Linked DNA regions of Homo sapiens. The protein of the gene in region 2 purifies or fractionates together with the protein of the main gene of each other region. This does not show direct contact. Each region holds a gene or a part of one and is shown on either strand. Other genes may lie near its edges.

Region 1 (3,500 bases), 5.6 Mb from region 2:
GTCAGGGATTTTTCTGGAAGGCTTCATTACTTTTGGAAGTACAATTAATAAGTGATTCTATCAAATTAACTTTAAAATCCGAGGCAGCCTCTCATTCTTTTTTTTTCTCCCCCAGCTGGAATCTTGCTCTGTCACCCAGGCTGGAGTGCAGTGGCGTGATCTCGACTCACTGCAACCTCCGCCTCCCGGGTTCAAGCAATTCTCCTGCCTCAGCCTCCCGTGTAGCTGGGATTACAGCCGCCCACCACCACACTCAGCTAATTTTTGTATTCTTAGTAGAGACGGGGTTTCACCATGTTGGCCAGGCTGGCCTCGAACGTTTGACCTTGTGATTCCGCCTGCCTCAGCCTCCCAAAGTGCTGGGATTACAGGTGTGAGCCACTGTGCCCGGCCGAAGCCTTTCATTCTTTCCATACACTGTCTGCTCTTGTATGGTAAGGATTATTCTTCCCATTTTCAATCACAGAGATCTAGGGATTTCTCCAAAGTTACTCAGTAAGGAAAGGGCCACATCAGTGAATGAAGCTCAGTAAGCCTTCCCCAGAGCCAGTGGCCCTACCTAGCATGGTGGCACATGACAGCCTCAGAACTACTTTTGCCTTCATATGCTTTCAGTGTGCTGATTCTCTCCAACCATCATCTCTCACCTCCATCACCGCAGCTGGCTTCCCACTGACTGGTCTCCTCGGCTTTGTCCCTGTCCCTCCAACCCAGGTTCCTCGCCATGGCCTGGGTGAGCTTTTCAAAGTGAAACTCTCTTCATGTCACTTTTACTGGTTCCGCCACAGCCTACAGGGTAAGGCCTGACCTCTTCCACCTCTCCAGCCTCCCCTGCCCTTGCTTTCTGGGTTCCAGCCACACTGGACTTCTTGGGGCAGCCCAAATTGGCTTTTCACAGGCCAATAACCTCTCCCTAATTCTTACCCGCTTTACCTCTTCACTGTGAGCCTTCAGATTTCAAAACCGTTCCTTGACCCCACTCCCTCCACGTCATAGGGTTCTCTGTGTGTACACATAGTCCATAACATGTCCATACATGGTCAATAACATGTATAATGTTTATAATTTTGTACCTGATAACCATGCAAAGGTAGGAACTTGTGCGTAACTGTATTCTCAGCCCTAGCCTGACAATGATGATGATAATAGCATGTATAAAATGTGTAATCTATATTATATCATACGGGTTATGTAACATAACTATAATATAGATAACGTTATACTTCTACTGACTCATCTAATTGTCATAACAAGTTTATGAGCTGGGTACCATTCATAGTCCTGTTTTAGGGATGGGGTGAAACAGAAGTACAGAGTGGTTAAGAACTTTGGTATGGCCACAGTTGGGATCCGGCATATAGCAGAAACTTAGCATCTGTTTGTTGAAGGAATGGATGAAAAAGACAGAATAAAAAAGTTATCTTCCAGCACTTTGGGAGGCCGAGGTGGGTGGATCACGAGGTCAGGAGATCGAGATCATCCTGGCTAACATGGTGAAACCCCGTCTCTACTAAAAATACAAAAAATTAGCTGGGCGTGGTGGCAGGCACCTGTAGCCCCGGCTACTCGGGAGGCTGAGCCAGGAGAATGGCGTGAATCCGGGAGGCAGAGGTTGCAGTAAGCCGAGATCGCACCACTGCACTCCAGCCTGGGAGACAGAGCGAGACTCTGTCTCAAAAAAAAAAAAAAAAAAAAAGTTATCAAAGAGGAGAGGCCAACCAAGAAAAGGAATTAAGAGATGGAGATGCTTTTTAGAGAAAGAGCTGGATTCTGAAAGGTGGACCATAAGAGATCAAGCATGTTAGAAACATTTAAAAATAAGTAAAGGACCAGAGATCTCCAGAGATTTTCACCTCCCACCCCTTTGGCAATCTGTGGAGACCAAGACGGTGGCCAAGACCCAAAAACCTTTGTGATCACTGCCTGGCCCCTCTGTCTCCCCAGCGTCTTGAACCTTTAAAGGGCCCCAGCCCCAAACTGCAGCATGCGCCCTTCCGCACCTCCGTACAGGGATCCTCCCATTAAGCCACCAGGGTCTCCTCGCCGCCTTCTGGAGCATGCGCCTGAATCCCCTTTCAGGTCCCGCCTCCTCGCCTGTGCATTCGCCCCACTGCCTCGGAGAGTGCCGCTCTGCGGCCCGTACTACGCTCACCTGTCACGATGTGCGTGGCTCCCACGCGGCGCGCCCCTTCCTCCAGCGCCCGGCGCCGCAGCACTCCACAGAAGGTGCAGCAGGAGCGGCTGCGGCCGGAGCCGGCTGTGCTGCGGGCCACGGCGTCCATCGTCCAGCCCCCAAAGAGGTCTTCGTAGGCCACGACCGTGAGCGGCAGCTCCCAGCGCGCCGCCTGGCGCCGCACGGCCGCCAACGCCGCGTCCCGGTAGCCACCGATGCCCTCATCGACGGCCACGAGCTGCAGTGAGATGCCCAGGCGCGGCGCCAGCGCGCGCAGCACGTGCGCCAGCACCGTGGAGTCCTTGCCGCCCGAGGCGCCCACGGCCACCACCGCGCCGGGCGGCAGCAGGCGGCCGGCGAGCACCGTGTGCAGCACCTCGGCCTCGAAGGCGGCGCAGAAGCAGGCACCGCACAGCGCTTGGCCCGAGAGCGGACGGCGGAGGGCGGCGCGTGCAGCATGGCAGGAGGCGCACGGCGGGGCGGGCATTGCGGGAGGGGTCGGCTTCTCCTAGACAGGGAGAGAGAGGAGGTGGGTTACATATGGATTCCGGATTGCAGGGTCCCTGCCATCGGGGAGATTGTCTGGATTGCACCTCTGCCCGGAATAGACCAGGGAGACGTGTGCGCGAGTGGAGTAGCTTCTTCTAGCGCTGGGGATAGGATGGTTATAAATAGGTCCGGTGTAAGGAAGCCACTGCCTTAGGGAAGGCTTCTTGGATTGCACCCATTATGCAAGAAGAAGAGAAGTAGCTTAAGAAGCTGGCTTCATGGGTAAAGAGAGGGAGCGACAAGCAGGTTATACCCAGGATTAGGTTGTGTCCTCTCCAGAGGGATGGGGGTGTATATTAAGGCCCATTTGTCACAACCTCCAGGGAGGCCACCCTTGTTACAGTCCTGATCAGGACAAGGTAGGTATCATTGGCCTGGGCCACCAGGGCTGTTAAAAGCCCTTGGGAGGTGAGGGGTTTTTGACTCTAAGGGCAGAGGGAGGCCAGGGGACTGAAGCTCTGTGCAGCGGGAGGTGGAAAACAGGAAAGGCCAACTGATTGCACTTTGTAGGGTGGGATACGGTCTCCAGGAATGGGTTCTGATTGCATCCTATGAAAGGCAGGGTGATCACCTTCTCCAGGGAACACAGGCAGCCTGGATCACACCTCTCAGGAGACCAGCTGGGGTTGCACACATTTTGAGGGTGAGAAAATGGGTGGGCCTCCAAGATTGAACTCAACCCTGCTCTGGTATCAGAATGCCCCACAAGCTTCTGTGCTCTCACCAAGACATGGATCGGCCCATCTTTGACCTTCATCTGTTATCTTTCCTACTTCAT
Region 2 (3,500 bases):
ACCTCCTAAAGTGTTATTATTACAGACGTCAGCCACCACACCTGGCCCCTCATGGCAGTTCGAACAATGATACTATTACAACCTTGTGGCCTCCCCACCCCGGTACTCAGTTTATAGATGGGGAAACTGAGGCACAGGAAAGTTAGGCAAGGTGCCTATTAAACTCAAACAGGGCCAGGCGCCGGGGCTCATGCCTGTAATCCTAACACTTTGGGAGGCCAAGGCAGAAGGATCGCTTGAGCCCAGGAGTTTGAGAACAGCCTGGGCAATATGGTGTAACCCCGTCTCTACAAAATATACAAAAATTAGCTGGGTGTGGTGGCATGCGCCTGTAGTTCCAGCTACTCTGGAGGCTGAGGCGAGAGGATCGTTTGAGCTGGGGAGGTTGAGGCCGCAATGAGTCATATTCTTGCCACTGCACTCCAGCCTGGGTGACAAAGTGAGACCCTGTCTCAAAAAAAAAAAAAAAATAGAGATAACATGCTTTCCGTGTTCTTAATGAAGAAAAAGAAAAAAAAAAAGGAACGTGCTTTCACTGTGAAAACTCTTAAGATAATTCAGATAAGCCAAATGAAACCGAAGCTGCAACATTTATCTTCCTATTCACTTATGGGAAACTGAGGCCCACCAGGAGGAAGGGACTAGAGTAGCCCCATCCCCGACAAAAGAAGATTTGTCGTTTGGAAGGGTGGTGTATATGTATCATAGGTTTTATGGTATAAGGAGGGTATGGGCTAAGTCTTGGGTTCAGGGGACAGTGAAGGGAAGGGTAAGACTGCAAGTTTTGTGAAAACCGGATTCACCATGCTTGATTACCTCTGGTGATGGGAAGCTCTCTCCTTCATGTGGAGCGTGTACCAAGTTACAGTTCCTGCGTTTAGGGCTTTTTGTCCATTATCTCTTTTAATCCTTACAATGAACCCAGTGAGTTATTGTTTCCAGGGCTGGAAACTGAGTTTCAGAGAGGCAAAGCCACACAACAAGGAGGCAACTTGAACCGTCTTTTCATCCGCCATGTGCTAGAGTTTTCCAAAATGTGGGGACTTGCAGGGAGGAGTGGGTCCTGGGCTGGCTGGAAAATTAAAGTGTTCTCATGTCCAATGGAGGGTTCTAGACTTCGGGAAAACACACTGGAAATGGGCAGAACTCCTTTCCATCTCACAGCCCCCGCACCCCCGTTTTATGGCTATGGGATTTTCGTTCTGGCTTTTGTGTAGTTTACAGTTTTATTTATTGAACTTAAGTAGTGAGTTAGGTTTTTATAGGTAATTTCAACCCATGATAAGAAAACAAATAATAAGCAGTTTGAAATACTTACTGAAATTATTGAAATGGTGGCTGGGCCTGGTGGCTTATGCCTGTAATCCCAGCACTTTGGGAGGTCGAGGCAGGCAGATCACCTGAGGTCAGGAGTTTGAGGCCAGCCTGGCCAATGTGGCAAACGCCCAAACCCCATCTCTACTGAAAATAGAAACATTAGCCTGGCGTGGTGGCACACGTTTGTAATCCCGGACACTCAGAAGGCTGAGGCAGGAGAATCGCTTGAACTCGGGAAGTGGAGGCTGGGAGGCTGAGGCAGGAGAATTGCTTGAACCTGGGAGGTGGAGGCTGCAGTAAGCTGAGATTACACCACTGCCAGCCTGGGTGCAGAGTGAGAGACTCTGTCTCAAAAGATAAATGGTACAAAATATTTGTTTCTTCCCTCCCCAGTTCCTGAGTTCCCCTCAATGGAGGCAGCCACAGTTAGTGTCTTGGGAAACAGTCTCTGCATATATCACCACTCTGAGTGCAGATATATTTATATATGCTCCTCACTGTTTTTTTTTTTGAGATGGAGTCTTGCTCTGTCGCCCAGGCTGGAGTGCAGTGGCGCGATCTCAGCTCACTGCAACCTCCACCTCCCAGGTTCAAGCAATTCTCCTGCCTCACCTCCTGAGTAGCTGGAATTACAGGCACGCGCCACCACGCCCAGCAAATTTTTCTATTTTTAGTAGAGACAGGGTTTCACCATGTTGGTCAGGCTGGTCTCAAACTCCTGACATCAAGAGGTCCGCCTGCTTCGGCCTCCCAAAGTGCTGGGATTACAGGCTTGAGCCACTGCGCCTAGCCTACCTTTTTTGTTTGTTTGTTTTTGTTTTTGAGACGGAGTCTTGCTCTGTCCCCCAGGCTGGGGTGCAGTGGCGTGATCTTGGCTCACTGCAACCTCCGCCTCCTGGGTTCACGTGATTCTCCTGCCTCAGCCTCCCAAGTAGCTGGGATTACAGGCGCCCGCCACCACGCCTGGCTAATTTTTTGTATTTTTAGTAGAGACGGGGTTTCGCTATGTTGCCCAGACTGGTCTCAAACTCCTGACCTTGTGATCCGCCTGCCTTGGCCTCCCAAAGTGCTGGGATTACAGGCATGAGCCACCGCACCCGACCTTTTTTTTGGTTTTGTAAAGCCTCTGATCAACACTACCTTGTACTTTGGCTTTTAAAAATTTCAATTTAGCTCTGCTTCTTCATCTTTAAATGAAGTTAAGAACTTGTGGGAACTTCGTTTCAACTATGAGCCCCTCTGCTTACTTGCTGTGTGATCTGGGGCAAGTGCCTTCACTCCTCTGTGCCTGCAATTCCCCCTTGTCAAAAGGGTGAGCGTCAGAGCCTATCCCATGAGGTTGTAGAGTCATGCAGCAGGGAAATTGGTGTCAAGCACCAAGAAGAGTGTCTGGGACCCAGGCTGACTGAGAAATGTTAGGTGTCCTAGGTAAAAGTTTGCCTTTTTTTGTGAGGGAGTCTTGCTCTGTGAGGGAGTCTTGCTCTGTTGCCCAGGCTGGAGTGCAAGTGACCTGAACAAGGCTCACTGCAGCCTCATCCTCTTGGACTCAAGTGATCCTCCTGCCTCACCCTCCTGAGTAGCTGGGACTACAGGCAAGCGCCACCACACCCAGCTAATTTTAAAGTTTTTTGTACAGACGGAGGTCACCATCTTGCCCAAGCTAGTCTCTCTCCTTTTTTTTTTTTTTTTTTTTTGAGACAGAGTCTCGCTCTGTCTCCCAGACTGGAGTGCAGTGGTCTGAGATCGGCTCACTGCAACTGCCTCCTGGGTTCAGTGATTCCCCTGCCTCAGCCTCCTGGGTAGCTGGGATTACAGGCATGAGCCACCATGCCTGGCTAATTTTTGTATTTTTAGTAGGCATAGGGTTTCACCATGTTGGCCAGGCTGGTGTCGAACTCTTGACCTCAAGAGATCCACCTGCTTTGGCCTCCCAAAGTTCTGGGATTACAGGCATAAGCCACCACACCCAGCCTTCCCAAGCCAATCTCAAACTCTTGGGCTCAAGTGATCCTCCTGCCTCAGCCTCCCAAAGTGCTGGGATTACAGGCGTGAGCCACCTCCCCTGGCCAAAGTTTGCCTTTTTTTACAGATGTTTCGTAACTATTGAGTCCCTACTATGTGTTGGACGCCATTCTAGGTTCTGGGGACACAGCAGTGAACAACTGGGACACAAATTTCTGCCT
Region 3 (3,500 bases), on a different chromosome or scaffold from region 2:
GAAACCCCATGTCTACTAAAAATACAAAAATTAGCTGACGTGGTGGCACATGCCTATAGTCTCAGCTACTCAGGAGGCTGAGGCTGAGGCTGAGGTGGGAGAATCGCTTGAACCTGGGAGGCAGAGGTTGCAGCGAGCCAAGACTGTGCCACTGCACTCCAGGCTGAGCGACAGAGCGAGACTCCGTCTCAAAAAAAAAAAAAAAAAAAGAAGATTCCCATCTTACAGATGGGAAACAGGCTCAGAGCAGTTTCCTGTCATACAAATAGTGAGTAACTGAGCCAGGATTCCAGGCTATCCCAGAAGATCTAGGTTGGGAAGGTCTATATTTCATCTTGGATTGACCTCTCCTCTGTTTTCAGACATCTTCTCAGGGAGTCTGAATGCATAAGGAATTACTTCTCAGGTGCTTCTTGAGGGAGAGAGACTTTATTTTTATTTATTTATTTATTTTTTTTTTTTGAGACAGGTTCTCACTCTATTGCCAAGGCTGGAGTGCAGTGGCATGATCATAGCTCACTGTAGCCTCGAACTCATGGGCTCAGGAGAAGAGAGAGACTTTAAAAGGTTTCCAGAAAAATGTGGTTTGTTGCTCCCTGAACAGCCATAAACAAATGTGGTTTGTTACTGTGTGGACCTTCTGATTTGAGATGTAGGGGGAAGGGAAAGCAATATTTTGAGCAGCCCTTCACAGAGCACAGCCATGTTTGAGCCCTGTTGGATTTGTGAAATCTGTTGACAGCTTCCAGGTAGGGCAGGTAGAATTTTGAGGATCTATACAAAGATAGCCTGGCATTGGCTACATTACTAGGTTGAGAGAGAGGACATATCCAGATGAAGATAATGGGATTAGTACAAATAACAAGAAAAACAATAACAGCTGTCTAGTATGAACCTCATACGTATTATTTCATTTAGACCTCCCAGCAACCCTATGAAATAGATACTGTTATTACTCCTGATTTACAAAAGTGGAAGCTAATCCATTTCTTAATTGCTCTGTACTTTAGTTTCTGGATTCTCTCTCCTGTCCTTGGCTCCTCAGAATTAGTTGGTGATAAATTAGGCAAAGATTTGCTGGGTGTGGTGGCTCGTGCCTGTAATCCCAGTGCTTTGGGAGGCCGAGACAGGTGGATCACTTGAGGCCAGGAGTTTGAGACCAGCCTGGTCAATGTGGAGAAACCCTGTCTCTACTCTAAAAATACAAAAATTAGCCGGGTGTGGCGGTACACACCTGTAGTCTCAGCTACCTGGGAGGCTGAGGCAGGAGAATCGCTTGAACCCGGGAGATGGAAGTTGCAGTAAGCTGAGATTGTGCCAGTGCACTGCAGTGTGGGTGACAGAACAAGACTCCACCTCAAAAAAAAAAAGGGGGCAAGGATAAAGGATACCATGTGCCTCAAGCTCTTTCAGAGAAAGGCAATAAAGCAAGACTCTGCAGTTATTCATGCCACCAACTTAACCCATGGTGGTGGTACTGCTGCCTGGTACACAGTAGGGTTTTCAAACATCTCAAGTCCTAAAATAGCAGGTCTTAATCATGGAGTGGTTGGATGTGACAGTTCTGGGGTAAGCCAAATCTTTAATAGTAATAACAAGAGCTATTATTTATTGAGCACTTAGTATGTGCCAGGCAGTAATGCTAAGTCCTTCTTATGAATTAACTAATTTATTTCTCATAACATTCCTGTAAGTTAGGGGATTTTATTATCCCAATTTTCCTGATGAGAAAATTATATATAAAGAGGTTAAATAGCTGCCCAGGGTCAGACAGCTAGGAACTTAGCAGAGTCAGGATTTTTATCCTGGGGAGTTTTGTTCCTCCGTGCTTAACATTATGTTCTTCTGCCTCATAACTTTGGAGGCTAACCATTAAGGACTTCTTTTCTGTATGTAACAGTAGCAAGAGAGGGCTGAACTTGCTTGGACCCGCAATCATGTGCCCGACATGTCCCTTTCGAAACGGGCCACTGAGGAGAAGACTTCACCTGGTAGATTTTCCAAACCAACCAAGTTAAGCTGGCCTCTAGGAATCGGGAATAAAAGGGACCATGGGACAGAAATAAGTAGAAACATGGCGTGTCAGTTTCACAGCCGGATAATACAGCTGGTGAAAGGAACTCTTGTAGGAGAAAGGAGTAAACAAAACCTGGGTAGGACAAAGAGGCTGCCTTGCAAACGAGAAGATTCCTGTTCTCTCCAGCACTGGTTAGGTAGGAAATAACTACTTTTATTTATGATATTCTGAGTCTCTTTTCCTTTGACTCCAGCTTTCACAAGATTCTAGAGGAGTGTTTCATTCATTCATTCATTCATTCAACGAACTTGTATTTATTGCTGCCAGTGGATAAAAGGAGAGAGGCATATGCTAATATGCTTTAGCATATTATAAACGAATGGTGATTCCTCCTTTTTTTTTTTTTTTTTTTTTTTTTTTTTGAGACGGAGTCTCGCTCTGTCGCCCAGGCCGGACTGCGGACTGCAGTGGCGCAATCTCGGCTCACTGCAAGCTCCGCTTCCCGGGTTCACGCCATTCTCCTGCCTCAGCCTCCCGAGTAGCTGGGACTACAGGCGCCCGCTACCGCGCCCGGCTACTTTTTGTATTTTTAGTAGAGACGGGGTTTCACCTTGTTAGCCAGGATGGTCTCGATCTCCTGACCTCATGATCCACCCGCCTCGGCCTCCCAAAGTGCTGGGATTACAGGCGTGAGCCACCGCGCCCGGCCGATTCCTCCTTTTCTCATTGTAATCCTAATAGCTTCCACACTGGGGTAGCCACCAGACTCCAGAACACTCACAGGGTACTCCTTAAGCCTTCTCATCTCTGGTTCAGCTTGAAAAAGCTGGTCTGTAGCTGTGAGTAGTCACGGTCTACCCATGTGCCTCCATGTGACAGATGTGGTCCACCTTCAGCTGTGCATTCTATGGAATGGTGGAGAGCAGTGCCGCTAGACACTTGAGTGTGCATCGGTGTCACCCGGAAAGCTTACTGAAAGTCCAGACTCTGAGATCACACTAAGAGAAGAATACTAGTTTAAGTGTCAGAATGGGGCTGCCATCCTGGCTCTCCTACTTACCTTGTGACCTTGGCCAAAGCGGGTGCCCTTACCTGTTGGATGGGCCCTGCAGTCATTGCTCAGGATTATTGTAATGATTCAATGAGAATGCAAGTGCATATGCAAAAGTAGCTCACAAACTAAAGAGAAATTGCAAAGTATAATTATTTGTTATGGGAAGCCCTGTTCCCTGGACCAACAACACTCGAGTGCTGATTCAAAAGTGCTGGGACGCCAGACTTTCCCCACTTCATTACTTTACCTTCCGGCGAGGGAAATGAATCTTTCTTTACCTTAGCAGTAACCAGAAAGAGGTCACTGTTTGAGACCCATAAACTCACTGCATATTTGCTATTGGAGAACACATAAAAGAGAGGGACCCAGAAGTTGTAAATTCCCCCTTTTGACCTTGGGGTTTTGGAGATTCTCACAACAGTAATACCA
Region 4 (3,500 bases), on a different chromosome or scaffold from region 2:
TCCATGTCAGCTTCACTCAGCCCATACTCAGTCCCATCTGGTGACAAGAGCCCAGACATCAGCAGGAGAGGGAGTCCTGACCAACCAGCCTGCCAACCAGCCAGCCAGGAACCCCACCTAACAAAGGCCACCACCCCCCGACCCCAGCACTGCAGAGGAACAGGGGTCCTCTCTACCTGAGAGAAAACCTGGGCACACACCAAGTTAAAACATGACAGTGCCACAGACCTCTCCATCAAGCAGAGCATTCGCTACTTCATTCAACAACAGCCACCGAGGCTCTCCCAGGTTTTATGCCAAGCCTCATGCTGGGTACTAGGACTACAGGTGCCCCTAGTGAGCTCACAGCCCAGTGGGGGAGGCAGACAGGAAATTAATTAATTGCAATACAGCTCAAGTGCTGCACTCTAGGACTGTGTGAAGAGAACATAAAGCACTGCCTGGGGAAGCCGAGGACAGTTCTGCAAAGGGCTGATGCCAAGCTAGGTCAACAAGTGCTGGGCCTGCAGAAGGAGGAAGGACATCCTAGCCAGAGGAACAAAGCGTGGCGTGGCAGATCATGGCAAGTTCAGGGACCAGGAAGCAGCTCAGTGTGTTGAGGAGCAGCATGGGTGACATGGAGTGTCGGGAGACTACATGAGAGGTGGAAGCAGCACAACAGACGGACAGCAGCGACACACCTTCTGCACCAGGCATTGAGACACCCGTAGGCTGAGGCAGGGGAGTAACATGATCAGATGGCTGTGGGTTAGAAAGATCTCCTGAGTAGCAGTGCCAAGTGTGCACCAGCAAGTGAGAGACCAGTAAGGGGGGAGTCCAGTTAGGAAGTAATTCTAATAATGCAGGCAAGAGATAATGACGACAGAAAGATGGAGGAAAATGGGGGAGGAACTCAGAAACATTTTAGAGATAAGATTTTTAACTGAGGTGGCTCAGGTGACATGTCCAGCAAGCAGCTGGAGAAATGAGTTTGAGCTCAGGACAAGGAAGGGAATCAGACAGAAGGCAGGACCAACCGACCAAACAGTTACTGAGCTCCTACTATATGACAACCCGTCAGCTGCTTTCCATGAGGTGCTGGATTTAATTTCCACAATCACTCCCTCAGCCTTTCCCAGCTGTCCTGTCTCTGAGAGCACCCCTGCTCCTTCCCTGGCTGGCTAACCCCTTCAGCATGTGTGACTCTCTTCCCCCGCACCAAATATTCTCCTTGTCTCTTCTTCTCTTCCTCCCACTCCAAACAAGCTCCTAAACTAAGGAAAGGAAAACCACCCCCCTTCCCTTGCCCCTGCTTATCTGCAAAGCTACCATCTCCTGTTTTTCCTTTCACCATCAAACATCTCGAGAGTCATCAACGCGTGTTGACTGTACTATCCCACCATCTACTCAATGGGAATCTGCCCACTACAGAAGAAACCGCAGTTGTCACATGCCACCAGTGGCCTTTTTTTTTTTTTTTTTTTTTGAGATGGAGTCTCACTCTGTCACCCAGGCTGGAGTGCAGTGGCACAATCCTTGCTCACAGCAACCTCTGCCTCCCAGGTTCAAGCGATTCTCCTGCCTCAGCCTCCCAGGTAGCTGGGATTACAGGCGCCCGCCATCATGCCTGGCTAAGTTTTGTATTTTCAGTAGAGACGGGGTTTCACCATGCTGGCCAGGCTGGTCTCGAACTCCTGACCTCAAGTGATCTGCCCGCCTTGGCCTCCCACCAAAGTGCTGGGATTACAGGCGTCAGCCATCATGCCTGGCCCACCAGTGGCCTTCTAAACTCTCTAATGCCCTCTTCTTGACTCCTACAGCATTCGATACTGCTGGCCACTCAGCCTTTCCCTCTTGAAGCACTTCCCTCCCACCCTGCTCACGCATCACCTGACCTCTCCTGATGTGCCTCCCCACCCCGTCCCCCGCTCTTGTCTCCTGAATGCCAGTTTTTTCCAGTAGTCTGTCAGTGGCCCTGTTCTGTTTCCTCCAAACTTTCCCCTTGGCCATCTTGTTCTATGGCTTTGGCTGTCATTTTGAAAACTATAAAAACACTCATTTCTAACACCATCCTATGCCCAGAACTCCAGACTGAATTTCCAATTGCCTGGATAACTCCTAGAAGTCTGATATCCAAACTCAACACCCAACCCAACCCTCTTTTAAACAACAGCACAGACACTAACAATGTTAATAAAGCATTTTATTTCTCACTGTAATCTTATGAGGTAGGCATTACTGTTCCCTTTTAACAGTGGGGTAAAAAGAACCTAGGGAGATCTCAGAGCTTGGGGGAGGCCATGAGTTCAGGTCTTCAGATTCCAAAACCAGAGCCTTTTCCTCTTACTGCCTGACCAGTTCCTTCTTTATTTCTGACAATGACAATACCATCTCTCTAGCCACCAGTCTCCTCAGTCCAGTCCTGATGATTCTAGCATTTTACCTTGCCTCCTTCCCTGATGTCTGCCCTTTTTGCCAATCCGCAGCCACCAGCCTGATTCAGGCTGTTATTCTACCTGAACCACCACAACAGACTCTTAACTTTTGTCTTTACAAATTCAGTCTCTATTCCCTCCAACCAACCCCTTAAGGTCCTAAATAAAGCACAACTCTGACGCCGTCACTTCAAGTCAAAGCTTATGAATGGCTCCCCAGGCCCAACTGCTTAACAGCCTCCCCATTTGTGCCGTACTCCCTCCTCACTTTCTTCTTGTAAGCTCTGTCATGGTGCAAGTGGCCCCATCACACACACAGCACTCCCCTTCCTTGTGCTGGGGTTCTCTGCAGGGTCCTAGCTCTACACCTTTGCTCATGGATTTCCTATCCTGAAAGCCCAACAGCGCACCTCCTCCTAGCAAAATCCTACTCATTCTGCCCACAAATGTCTGTGTCTCCCTTACATTTGCAATGTACTGCCTTGTGCAACAGTGTTTTGGATACACATCCTCCCCTCCCCGCACAATACATAAGCATCTTGAAAACAAGGAACATACCGCAACAATTTCCTGATGCCCCACAACCAGTGCCTTTCCTCAAATGTTTGTAAAATGTAAAACAAATGAACAAAGAGGGAGCGGTTGGGCTGAGGAGTTTCTAAATGCACGGCAAAGTGAGCTGTGAAAGCCTTCAGGGTTAGAGAAGGGTTTGCTGGGAGTGTTCCTAAGAAGGCTGGCTAAATTCTATTCAACCTCCCCTGCTCCTGTTCTTTCAGGTCCTGTTCCACACCAAGGGCTATCACCAACGTCACCTTGTCCATCAGGGCTCTCGGTCAGTCACATTACCCGTCTCCAGCATGCATCACATTCCTCACTCTGTGGAAGCCGAGACAAAGGTGGAGGAGAAAAGCTGCAGAGGTCCAATTACTAAAGGCCACATACTCAGCCATGCCAGACGCTAATCAGATTTCCATCCTGCCGGCTCATTCACTTTTCTTATATGTATTCTCCTCTTCTACAGGCTGCAAAGACTCCCTAGACTCTCAGAATAAAAGTCTAACCTCTTTGGCATGGCATTTAAGGACC
Region 5 (3,500 bases), on a different chromosome or scaffold from region 2:
AAATCTGCACTTTGTTTCAGGGGGTTTCATAGCTTTCGTGGCATTTTCATTAAAAATCTAACAGGAGTGAGATGTTGGAGCCCCCACAGGTCATTTTTTCCAAACTTCCTGAACCAGACGCAAGACTCCCAGCAATGTGTATTGGGAGGAGTGTTAGCACTCTGGAGGAGTCCGGCCTGGATGCAGATCTCAGCTTTACTGCTGCTCACAGAGGCACTTAGGCCGGCCACTCTGGGCCTGAGGTTCCTCATCTCAAGAGATGTGGCCAGAATTATAATCAAAGAGGCATCCAAGGGCTCACCACACACACAGCCCGATGCATGTGAATTCTTTGTGGTCAATTAACTTGGCTGGCCTCAGGGGTGTTGGAGATTGGGGACAGGATAGGAGGACATGGAACAGGTGTACTTGGCAGGCTGAAAGCACTGTGAGTTGAAGTCAAGGGGAGAGGTCCAGGCGCAGTGGCTCATGCCTGTAATCCCAGCGCTTTGGGAGGCCCAGGCGGGAGGGTTGCTTGAGGCCAGAAGTTTGAGACCAACTTGGGCAACATAGCAAGACCTCGTCTCTACAAAAGATTAAAAAAAAAAAAAAAAAAAGCCTGGGCAACGTAGCCAGACTCTGTCCCTACTAAAAATAAAAAAATTAGCTGGGCATGATGGTATGCACATGTGGTCCCAGCTACTCGGGAGGCTGAGGTCAGAGGATCACTTGAGCCTAGGAGTTGGAGGCTGTGGTGAGACATGATTGCACCATTGTACTCCAGCCTGAGTGACTGAATGAAACCCCATTTTTTTTTTTTTGAGACAGAGTTTCGCTCTTGTTGCCCAGGCTGGAGTGCAGTGGCATGATCTCAGCTCACTGCAACCTCCGCCTCCCGGGTTCAAGTGCTTCTCCTGCCTCAGTCTCCCGAGTAGCTGGGATTACAGGCATGTGCCACCACGCCCAGCTAATTTTGTATTTTTAGTAGAGACGGGGTTTCTCCATATTGGTCAGGCTGGTCTTGAACTCCCGACCTCAGGTGATCCGCCTGCCTCGGCCTCCCAAAGTGCTGGGATTACAGGCATGAGCCACCGCGCCTGGCCTGAAACCCCATTTCTTTACAAAAAAAGTGGGGGAGGCCAGATGTGTACATGTTTGTGCTCTAAGCAGCCAGGAGCTGCTGTGGCTGGTGCATGGTCTGAGCACATGTGGGCTGCTGCCCTGATGGGTATAAGGCAGACCCTCCACTCCACCAGCCCACCCGGCGGGGACATCAGCCAGAAAGATGGTAGCCATTGAGTTCTAGCTATGTGGGCCTTGGTTTCCTCACCTGCAAAATAGCCCTGATGATCTCAAGGGTCCTTTCCCGCTCTACAGCTCTTCATTTTGGGCGGCTCCCTAACTGATGTGCTACAACGTGCTGTGCACTTTTCTAGGGACCATGTTGTAGACGCACTTGGGGGCCGTTTCGTGTGGTTGACCTTCATTCTGCTTTGTCGTCTGGCATCTCCCTTTGGGCCAGCCCTCAGCCTAGGGCCTGGGCACCAGTCCCTTTCTCATCTCTCCCCCAGGGGATTTGGGAGCAGCTTGTCTTACACAAGGACGAAGGAAAAGGTCAGGGATCGAGTGGAAGAGATGTTCTTGGTGTGTGGCCGCTCAGGGAGGTGGAAAGAGCATTGAGAAGTGAGCTGGGTCCCACCGAGCTTCTTAAGAGTTGGGACTGAGGCATCCTCTCCCGGAAGAAGGGCTGGGGCTGCGGGGAGGGGACCCACCTGCCCCCCTCATCGCAGTGCTTTCTCTCTTGCAGGTGTGGGCAAGAGCAGTTTACTGTTGCGTTTTGCAGACAACACTTTCTCAGGTGAGTCCTCCCCTGCAGTGCTGCTGGGGTGTCGTTTTTGTTTGTTTGTTGACATCCCCTCCCTGGCACCAAACAGAGTTGCCTCTGCCTGATGTTGGGAACTGTCTCATTCTGGTTGCCAGAGGAGGGAAGAAGATGGAGTGGGGCTTAGGACCTTGTGGCGCTTCTGTCAGAAGCCTCTGTGGTCTGTCTAATGCACCTGCTCACGAAAACCCTTTGGCTGGCCCATCATTTTCCCACCCATGGTCCAAACAGGAAGGTTCCCATAACAGCGTCTATGGTGCCACCCGGGACACAGTCCCTGCTCCTGCCCCCTATGCCTCCCTGGCAGCCTGTGGTCAGCGTGTGTCTTTCTGATTTCTTTCTGCGCTCCACATGCAGGCCTTTGTGGTTCATCTGAGTGCGGTGGGCTTTCTGTGCTTGAAGGCACCACATGGTGCACTGACGCTGCTGTTACATCGTGCCTGACTTCTGGTTGTGTTTTCAGCGATGCTTAGCTACTTGGGATATAGGCGATATTTATTCTTTTTTTTTTTTTTTTTTTTTTTTTGAGATGGAGTCTTGCTCTGTCACCCAGGCTGGAGTGCAGTGGCGCGATTTCGGCTCACTGCAACCTCTGCCTCCTGGGTTCAAGCAATTCTCCTGTCTCAACCTCCCAAGTAGTTGGGACTATAGGCACCTGCCACCACGCCCGACTAATTTTTATATTTTTAATAGAGATGGGGTTTCACCATGTTGGTCAGGCTGGTCTCGAACGTCTGACCTCAGGTGATCCACCCACCTTGGCCTTCCAAAGTGCTGGGATTACAGGCGTGAGCCACTGCGCCCAGCTGATACTTATTCTTGTGCACGTGTTTCTGTAGAAGTGGGGTTACTGGCTTACAGGGTGTATGCACTGAGAATTTTCATAGGTACTGCCAACCTGCTTTTCAAAGAAGCTGGAGTCATTTAATCCAGTCCCACTGAAGGGTGGAAAGTGCCCCTTGTCAACCCTGGTCAGTGCTGGATCTTAGTAGCTGTCTTCATTCTTGCTGAGCTGATAGGCAAAAAGGGCTAACTTGTTTACATTTGTATTTCCCTAATCACTGGTAAGATGGAACACATTTTTGTTTGTTAAATACATCAGGTTCAGCCGGGTGCGGTGGCTCACACCTGTAATCCCAGCACTTTGGGAGGCCGAGGCGGGTGGATCATGAGGTCAGGAGTTCGAGACCAGCCTGACCAACATGGTGAAACCCCGTCTCTACTAAAAATACAAAAATTAGCTGGGCGTGGTGGTGCATACCTATAATCCTAGCGACTGGGGAGGCTGAGGCAGGAGAGTTGCTTGAATCCGGGAGAGGGAGGTTGCAGTGAGCTGAGATGGCACCACTGCACTCCAGCCTGAACGACAGAGCGAGACTCCATCTCAAAAAACAACAAAAAAAATCAGGTTCATTACAGATGCTTTGGGTGGGGTTGACATCTCTGATTATCTTGTGGAGAATTCCCTCTGACATGGCTGGGCTGCCTTTAGAAAGTGATTCCGTTGGCCAGGCGCGGTGGCTCACGCCTGTAATCCTAGCACTTTGGGAGGCCGAGGCGCGTGGATCATGAGGTCAGGAGATTGAGACCATCCTGGCCAATATGGTGAAACTCTGTCTCTACTAAAAATAAAAAAATG
Region 6 (3,500 bases), on a different chromosome or scaffold from region 2:
CAGGCTAGAATGCAGTGGCGCATCTCAGGTCACTGCAGCCTCAACCTACCAGGCTCAAGTGATCCTCCCGCCTCAGCCCCCAAAGTAGCCGGGACTACAGCTATGCACAACCATGCGCGGCTTGTTTTTTTTTTTTTTTTTTTTTTTTTTGAGACGGAGTCTCACTCTCTCACCCAGGCTGGAGTGCAGTGGCGCTATCTCAGCCCACTGCAACCTCTGCCTCCCAGGTTCAAGCAATTCTCCTGCCTCAGCCTCCTGAATAGCTGGGATTACAGGCGCGTGCCACCACACCTAATTTTTGTATTTTTAGTAGAGATGGTGTTTCACCATATCGGTCAGGCTGGTCTCGAACTCCTGACCCTGTGATCCACCTGCCTCTGCCTCCCAGAGTGCTGGGATTACAGATGTGAGCCACCGCGCCTGGCCTAAGTTTTTGTATTTTTTGTAGAGACGGGGTTTCGCTGTGTTGCACAGGCTGGTCTCGAGCTCCTGAGCTCAAGTGATCCGCCCACCTAGGCCTCCCAAAGTGTTGGAATTACAGGTATGAGCCACAGTGCCCTATTAAGGATTCTTAATGAAATCTTGGAGCCTTCTAATCTGCTCCAGTCTGGACTGGTTGTTCTCTGGGCCTCCTGTGTACCTGTGGACTTCATTTTCTGTGAGATCATTCTAGGCATTCCCTTTAACTCCCTCTTGTGTAAGGCCCCATGTCATCTTTTTTGATTTATTTGCTCAATTTGGTAGAACCCATTTTCCAGTAGTATTGTAGAAACTATTTATTTATTTATTTATTTTGAGGTGGAGTTTTGCTCTTGTTGCCCAGGCTGGAGTGCAATGGCGTGATCTCGGCTCACTGCAACCTCCGCCTCCCGTGTTCAAGCGATTCTCCTGCCTCAGCCTCCTGAGTAGCTGGGATTACAGGCATGCGCCACCACGCTGGCTAATTTTGCATTTTTAGTAGAGACGGGGTTTGTCCATGTTGGTCAGGCTAGTCTTGAGCTCCTGACCTCAGGTGATCTGCCCGCCTCACCCTCCCAAATTGCTGGGATTATAGGCATGAGCCACCGTGTTTGGCCAGAAATAATTTTTAATTTTCAACTTCTTTTGTTTCTTTTCTTCTTATTAGCATCCCGTTCTTGTTTTATGGATGAAATGTCTTGTTTTTCTTCAACAATTTTCTAATTTTTCTTGAAAATTTTTTTCCTTGTGGACATTGTTGCTCATCCCTATAATCTCAGTACTTTGGGAGGCTGAGGGAGGAGAATCACTTGAGCCTAGGAGTTCAAGACTAGCCTGGGCAACATAGCCCGTGTCTAGAAAAAATTTAAAAAATTAGGCTGGGCAAGGCTCACACCTGTAATCCTAGCACTTTGGGACGCTGAGGCAGGAGGACTGCTTGAGTCTAGAAGTTCAAGACCAGCCTGAGCAACATAGTGAGACTTTGTCTTCACAAAAAATTTAAAAAATTAGTTGAGTGTAGTAGTGTACACCTGTAGTCTTAGCTATTTTGCAGGCTTAGGTGGGAAGATCTCGTGAGCCTGGGAGGTTGGGGCTCCATGAGACGTGATTGTGCCACTGCACTCCATCGTGGGCAACAGAGTGAGACCCTGTCTAAAATATTTTTTTTTCCTTTTGAACTGGTCAGATTGTTTAGAGCTATGTTTTTCAAACTGCAGGTCTAGACCTATTAGGAGATAATAAAATAAATTTAGTGGTCATGAGGAGCATTTCTTTTGAGACAGAATGTCACTCTGTCACCTAGACTGGAGTGCAGTGGTACGATCACAGCTCACTGCAGCCTCAACCTCCCAGGCTCAAGTGATCCTCCCACCTCAGCCCCCAGCTACAGGCACATGCCACCACACCCAGTTATTTTTTTTTATTTTTTGTGGAGGTAAAGTTTTGCCATGTTGCCCAGGCTGGTCTCAAACTCCTGGGCTCAAGTGATCTTCCTGCCTCAGCCTCCCAAAGTGTTGTGATTATAGGCATGAGCCACCACTCCTGGCCCACATTTCTTTTTTAAGTGAAACAGAGCAGTAGATATCAAAATGCCTTGCCCATAGTAGTGATGAGTGGTTTTTTTCCTGAAATTTTGTTTCTGTTATGTATTTATATTTATTTGTGGGTTTTAGTTATGAAATCAAATGTATTCCTTACTGTGGCTTTTGGTCAAAAAGTTTGAAAAACATTGCTCAGGAGAAAACTGCCTCTTCTCATTTCATTCCGGGAGGGTATTTCTGGCTGCTGGCTTCTGAGAGCTGAGTAGGGAAAGAAGGCTGAGGTTCTTAACATTTGGTTTGGAAATTTTTACATATTTATCCCGTTTTCAGTACATTATTCCTGCCTTAGACTGTGCTTGGTGTCCCCAATCCAAAGACGCTCTATTTTACGGTCTCCAGAGAATAAGCCTGGAGTCTTCCACGGGAGTGGGGGAGGTGCAGTCGTCTAGCTTTACAGCATAGGGGAGGGGATCCGGGAATCTGTTTCTTAAACATTGAACCACCTTGCAATTTTTAGCTCCTTGTTCATTTCCATTTCCAGAGGTCCTTGTTGCCACCATTTCCTTTTTTGAGGTCCTGTGATAAAAATCAGGTTGTTTCTTTACTTTCTTTACGGCTGGTTTAGGATTTGGATTACCCAGGTATCACTAACCTATCTTCTTTTTAGCTTCAAAGTTTTGTTGCTGTGTCTTCTCCCACTCTCTGTTATAGTGGATTTATGCCTTTTTAGAAGTCCTTTAATCTTACATCAATAGACTTAAGGAAGGCGTGGAACTAATGTTATGTCTTTAGTCTGCACCTTTAACTAGAAATATGAGCATTCATTTTTATTTATTTATTTTTTGAGATGGGGTCTCACTCTGTTGTCCAGGCTGGAATGCAATGGCGTGATCTTGGCTCACTACAACCTCTGCCTCCCGGGCTCAAGCAGTCCTACCGTTTCAGCCTTCCGCGTAGCTGGGAGTACAGGCATACGCCACCAAGCCTGGCTAATTATTGTATTTTTTATAGAAACAGGGTTTCACCATGTTGCCCAGGCTGGTCTTGAACTCCTGGACTCATGCAATCTGCCCACCTCAGCCTCCCAAAGTGCTGGGATTACAGGCATGAGCCACCATGCCCAACCTGAGTACTCATTTTTTTACATAAAATTTTTTGACAGTTCATCTCCTGTAGTTATGCAGGTATCCACTGATTAAGAAAATACATGACAAAAAGCTGGTGTACATTTAATAACACTTCTAAATAAAGTCACAACTCAACACATTTGAAAAATAATATATATGCGTGTGAAATGATCATTCAGTCTGCAGACATGTTAAGCAAGTTATACATAAAGATTCGTGGGATTCTTTGGAACTCTTTGCAGTGCTCACACTTGGCAGTGATTACTTTGTAGAAATAACTAAATATAATGGAATTCAAAGCAGAAAGCATAGTCATGGAAGGCTTTGATGAGTGGAATTTGGATTGGGGGAAGGAAGAATGTATTCCAGGGGA
Region 7 (3,500 bases), on a different chromosome or scaffold from region 2:
ACCTTCTTTACAGGCGGGATGGTTAAATAAGTAGATGAAAAAAGTAGAAACATTAACATCTAGAAGTAATTTGCACAGTGATCAGCAAATTATCCTGGCAGTGATTTAAAACTCTAATGGTCTCCTTGGCTTTTGCCATCATCTCCAGGGCAGGTCTGGCTGTGGACACTGTGTGAATTCAGAGATGTAACTGTTTTGTCCTCACAGGAACAGTGGAGGCCATGTGTCTTTTGGCAGTCAGTCCAGATGGGAATTGGCTAGCTGCATCAGGTACCAGTGCTGGAGTCCATGTCTACAACGTAAAACAGCTAAAGGTGAGCATAGGGTTTCATGGCAGCAGTTTGAATCATTGTACAGGAGCCAGTTCACCCTGCAGTTACAAGATTCAAGGCAGATTGGCATGACCTGGAAATTTATTAGACTTTTTTCTTTTTATTTTCTTTTCTTTTCTTTTTTTTTTTTTTTTGAGACAAAGTCTTACTCTGTCACCCAGGCTAGAGTGCAGTGGCGCGATCTCGGCTCACTGCAACCTCAGCCTCCCGGGTTCAAATGATTCTCCTGTCTCAGCCTCCTGAGTAGCTGGGATTACAGGTGTGTGCCTCCACACCTGGCTAATTTTTGTATTTTAATAGAGACAGGGTTTCACCGTGTTGCTCAGGCTGACCTTGAACTCCTGAGCTCAGGCAATCCGCCCACCTCGGCCTCCCAAAGTGCTAGGATTACAGGCATGAGCCACCGCGCCTGGCCAGACTTTTTTCTTTTTAACTAATAATTTTTCCAGGTTTGGAATCCTGTTTTATTTTTATGGAACCCGGAAGCTATACTGTGTAACATTAAAAGCAGCTAATGGAAACAGTGAAACCCATTCATACCTGGAAATTTGAAATTAATGATCTGTGGGTGATGTAAACACATCCAGGTTCTTTCTGTATTTTCGGGAGGAAAATTCTGATATACACAGACAAATAGTTGCAGATAATAAGAGTTCCTTTCATGGCTTGCCTTGTAATCTCAAGGTAAACATAATCAAAACTTCGAAAAAGGAATACTGGGAAAACATTTTTCACTAATCAGTAATGACGCTGTCAGTCATAAATTGAGTCATTAGTGATCCCTTACAAGTCCTCATCTTCATTATAAGAATCAGATTCGAACTACCCAAAACTTGGAATAAGCATTAAAAGTGTATAGAATAACATCAAACTGCAACACTTAATGGGTTTACCTGTTAACTGCATAGTGTAACCTTTGTTGCATTATGGTAGGAGCATGTACTGAGCACTTGTCTTTGAGCCTTGCCTGGCATTTAAAGAGTGTTTGTGTGTAGCGTGCACATGCTTTGCAATTGTACATAAAAATCCATGCCTAGGCATTTATTTATTTTAAACCTGGTGTAGAGCTGTAGACTCCCTATTCAATGACACATTTATAAGCAGTTTGTACAGATGGATTTACTCAGAGGGAAAGGCTTTACTCTCAGTTCTCCACAAACGCTGTTAGTTTTGTACGCGGTTAAATAAGCTTTTTATTTTTTTGAGACAGGGTTTCACTCTGTCACCCAGACTGAGTGCAGTGGCACAGTCACAGCTCACTGCAGCCTTGACCTCTCTGCTCAAGCGATCCTTCCACCTCAGTGTCCTGAGTAGCTGGGACTACAGGCGAGTCCCACCACACCTAGCTAATCTTTTTTTTTAGTAGAGATGAGGTTTTGCTGTGTTGCCCAGGCTGGTCTTGAACTCCTGGACTCAAGCGTTCCTCCCGCCCTGGCCCTTCCGAAGTGCTGTAGTTACAGGTGTGAGCCACTGCGCCCAGCCAATAGGCCTTTTGTTTTTTTTTTGAGATTGAGTCTTGCACTGTTGCCCAGGCTGGAGTGTGGTGGCGCAGTCTCTGCTCACTGCAACCTCCGCCTCCTAGGTTCAAGTGATTCTCCTGCCTCACCCTCCTGAGTAGCTGGGATTACAGGTGCACGCCACCACACCCAGCTAATTTTTTTAATTTTTGGTAGAGATGGGGTTTCACCATGTTGGCCAGGCTGGTCTCAAACTCCTGACCTCGTGATCCGCCTGCCTTGGCCTCCCAAAGTGCTGGGATTATAGGCATGAGCCACTGCGCCCGGCCAACCAATAGGTATTTTTTTAAGAAAATGAGGACTGGTGCGGTGGCTTACGCCTGTAATCCCAGCACTTTGGGAGGCCGAGGTGGGTGGATCATGAGGTCAGAAGTTCAAAACCAGCCCGGCCAACATAGTGAGACCCCGTTTCTACTAAAAATACAAAAATTAAGCCAGGTGCAGTGGTTCACGCCTATAATCCCAACACTTTGGGAGACCAAGGTGGGTGGATCACCTGAGGTCAGGAGTTTGAGACCAGCCTGGCCAACATGGTGAAACCCCGTCTCTACTAAAAATACAAAAATTAGCCAGGCATGGTGGTGGGTGCCTGTAATCCCAGCTGCTCGGGAGGCTGAGGCAGGAGAATCACTTGAAACCGGAAGGTGGAGGTTGCAGTGAGTCAAGATCATGCCATTGCACTCCAGCCTGGGAGAAAGAGTGAAACTCCATCTCAAAAAAAAAAAAAAAGAAAAACAAAAAATTAGCCGGGTGTGGTGGTAGGCGCCTGTAATCCCAGCTACTTGGGAGGCTGAGGCAGGAGAATCACTTGAACCTGGGAGGCAGAGGTTGCAGTGAGCTGATTATCACGCCACTGCACTCCAGCCTGGGTGACAAGAGCGAAACTCCATCTCAAAAAAAAAAAAAAGAGAAGAAAAAGAAATGAAAGTTCATTGGTTGGGGAAATGCCTGAAATTTTTGGAACTTCCCTAGAACCCTTTTGAATTATGAGGAGCAGTATTTAAACCCCTGACCTAGACCATTCAATCTTTGCTGAGGAAAAGTGTCACTTAGAGTTGCCACTTGTGTCTGTTATTTGTTCCCAGCTTCACTGCACGGTGCCTGCTTACAATTTCCCAGTGACTGCTATGGCTATTGCCCCCAATACCAACAACCTTGTCATCGCTCATTCGGACCAGCAGGTAAGGGAGATTCCAGTGCTTTCTATTCCCTTCCTGCTGGATAGTAACCTAGAAGCTGGAATATTGGGCAGTTGCGGGGAGCTTTTTTTTGAAGGTGTTGGAGGATATAAGGTAGTTTTCTCCTGTGTGAAGTAAAGCTTCCTTGCCGGTCTGGGCTCATCATAGGCCAGCAGTATGCATTGGTTTGATGGGATGCAATTTAAATGGAGAAGCACTAAGATTCTAGAGTAAAGAATCACAAGAGGGAGGAGGAATTTTGAAGTACTCATTTTCCTGATTGTTTTAGAGGAGAGATGACATGGGCTTGGGTATTAAACTGGATATGGGATGGAATAAGATTTTGAGAGTTGAAAGTGACTAAAAGATTGTATCATTCACCTTTACGCTTGCCGATGAGGAAATCAAGCCCTAATAAGATCAGGTACCTAATCTCAGCCAAAATTAGAACCTAATCTACTTTTTTCTATACC

The links.
Region 1: the proteins of VASP (region 2) and CTU1 purify together in Homo sapiens (affinity purification with mass spectrometry; 3 studies listed by BioGRID and IntAct, with this or other methods). This does not show direct contact.
Region 3: the proteins of VASP (region 2) and LRP4 purify together in Homo sapiens (affinity purification with mass spectrometry; 2 studies listed by BioGRID and IntAct, with this or other methods). This does not show direct contact.
Region 4: the proteins of VASP (region 2) and GTPBP1 purify together in Homo sapiens (affinity purification with mass spectrometry; 3 studies listed by BioGRID and IntAct, with this or other methods). This does not show direct contact.
Region 5: the proteins of VASP (region 2) and RAB35 fractionate together in Homo sapiens (co-fractionation; one large-scale study listed by BioGRID). This does not show direct contact.
Region 6: the proteins of VASP (region 2) and PSMA5 fractionate together in Homo sapiens (co-fractionation; one large-scale study listed by BioGRID). This does not show direct contact.
Region 7: the proteins of VASP (region 2) and UTP4 purify together in Homo sapiens (affinity purification with mass spectrometry; 3 studies listed by BioGRID and IntAct, with this or other methods). This does not show direct contact.

The regions. Positions count from the first base shown.
Region 1 is NC_000019.10:51,101,910-51,105,409, forward strand, and holds part of CTU1 (cytoplasmic tRNA 2-thiolation protein 1), read right to left. Parts: intron 2,682-3,500; 5' UTR 2,661-2,681; coding exon 2,153-2,660; intron 1-2,152.
Region 2 is NC_000019.10:45,510,479-45,513,978, forward strand, and holds part of VASP (vasodilator-stimulated phosphoprotein), read left to right. Parts: intron 1-3,500. UniProt on the Homo sapiens protein: Ena/VASP proteins are actin-associated proteins involved in a range of processes dependent on cytoskeleton remodeling and cell polarity such as axon guidance, lamellipodial and filopodial dynamics, platelet activation and cell migration.
Region 3 is NC_000011.10:46,908,551-46,912,050, reverse strand, and holds part of LRP4 (low-density lipoprotein receptor-related protein 4 precursor), read left to right. Parts: intron 1-3,500. UniProt on the Homo sapiens protein: Mediates SOST-dependent inhibition of bone formation. Functions as a specific facilitator of SOST-mediated inhibition of Wnt signaling.
Region 4 is NC_000022.11:38,712,444-38,715,943, reverse strand, and holds part of GTPBP1 (GTP-binding protein 1), read right to left. Parts: intron 38-3,500; coding exon 1-37. UniProt on the Homo sapiens protein: Promotes degradation of target mRNA species. Plays a role in the regulation of circadian mRNA stability. Binds GTP and has GTPase activity.
Region 5 is NC_000012.12:120,106,754-120,110,253, reverse strand, and holds part of RAB35 (ras-related protein Rab-35), read left to right. Parts: intron 1-1,786; coding exon 1,787-1,837; intron 1,838-3,500. UniProt on the Homo sapiens protein: The small GTPases Rab are key regulators of intracellular membrane trafficking, from the formation of transport vesicles to their fusion with membranes.
Region 6 is NC_000001.11:109,416,449-109,419,948, reverse strand, and holds part of PSMA5 (proteasome subunit alpha type-5), read left to right. Parts: intron 1-3,500. UniProt on the Homo sapiens protein: Component of the 20S core proteasome complex involved in the proteolytic degradation of most intracellular proteins. This complex plays numerous essential roles within the cell by associating with different regulatory particles.
Region 7 is NC_000016.10:69,160,149-69,163,648, forward strand, and holds part of UTP4 (U3 small nucleolar RNA-associated protein 4 homolog), read left to right. Parts: intron 1-207; coding exon 208-314; intron 315-2,934; coding exon 2,935-3,030; intron 3,031-3,500. UniProt on the Homo sapiens protein: Ribosome biogenesis factor. Involved in nucleolar processing of pre-18S ribosomal RNA. Part of the small subunit (SSU) processome, first precursor of the small eukaryotic ribosomal subunit.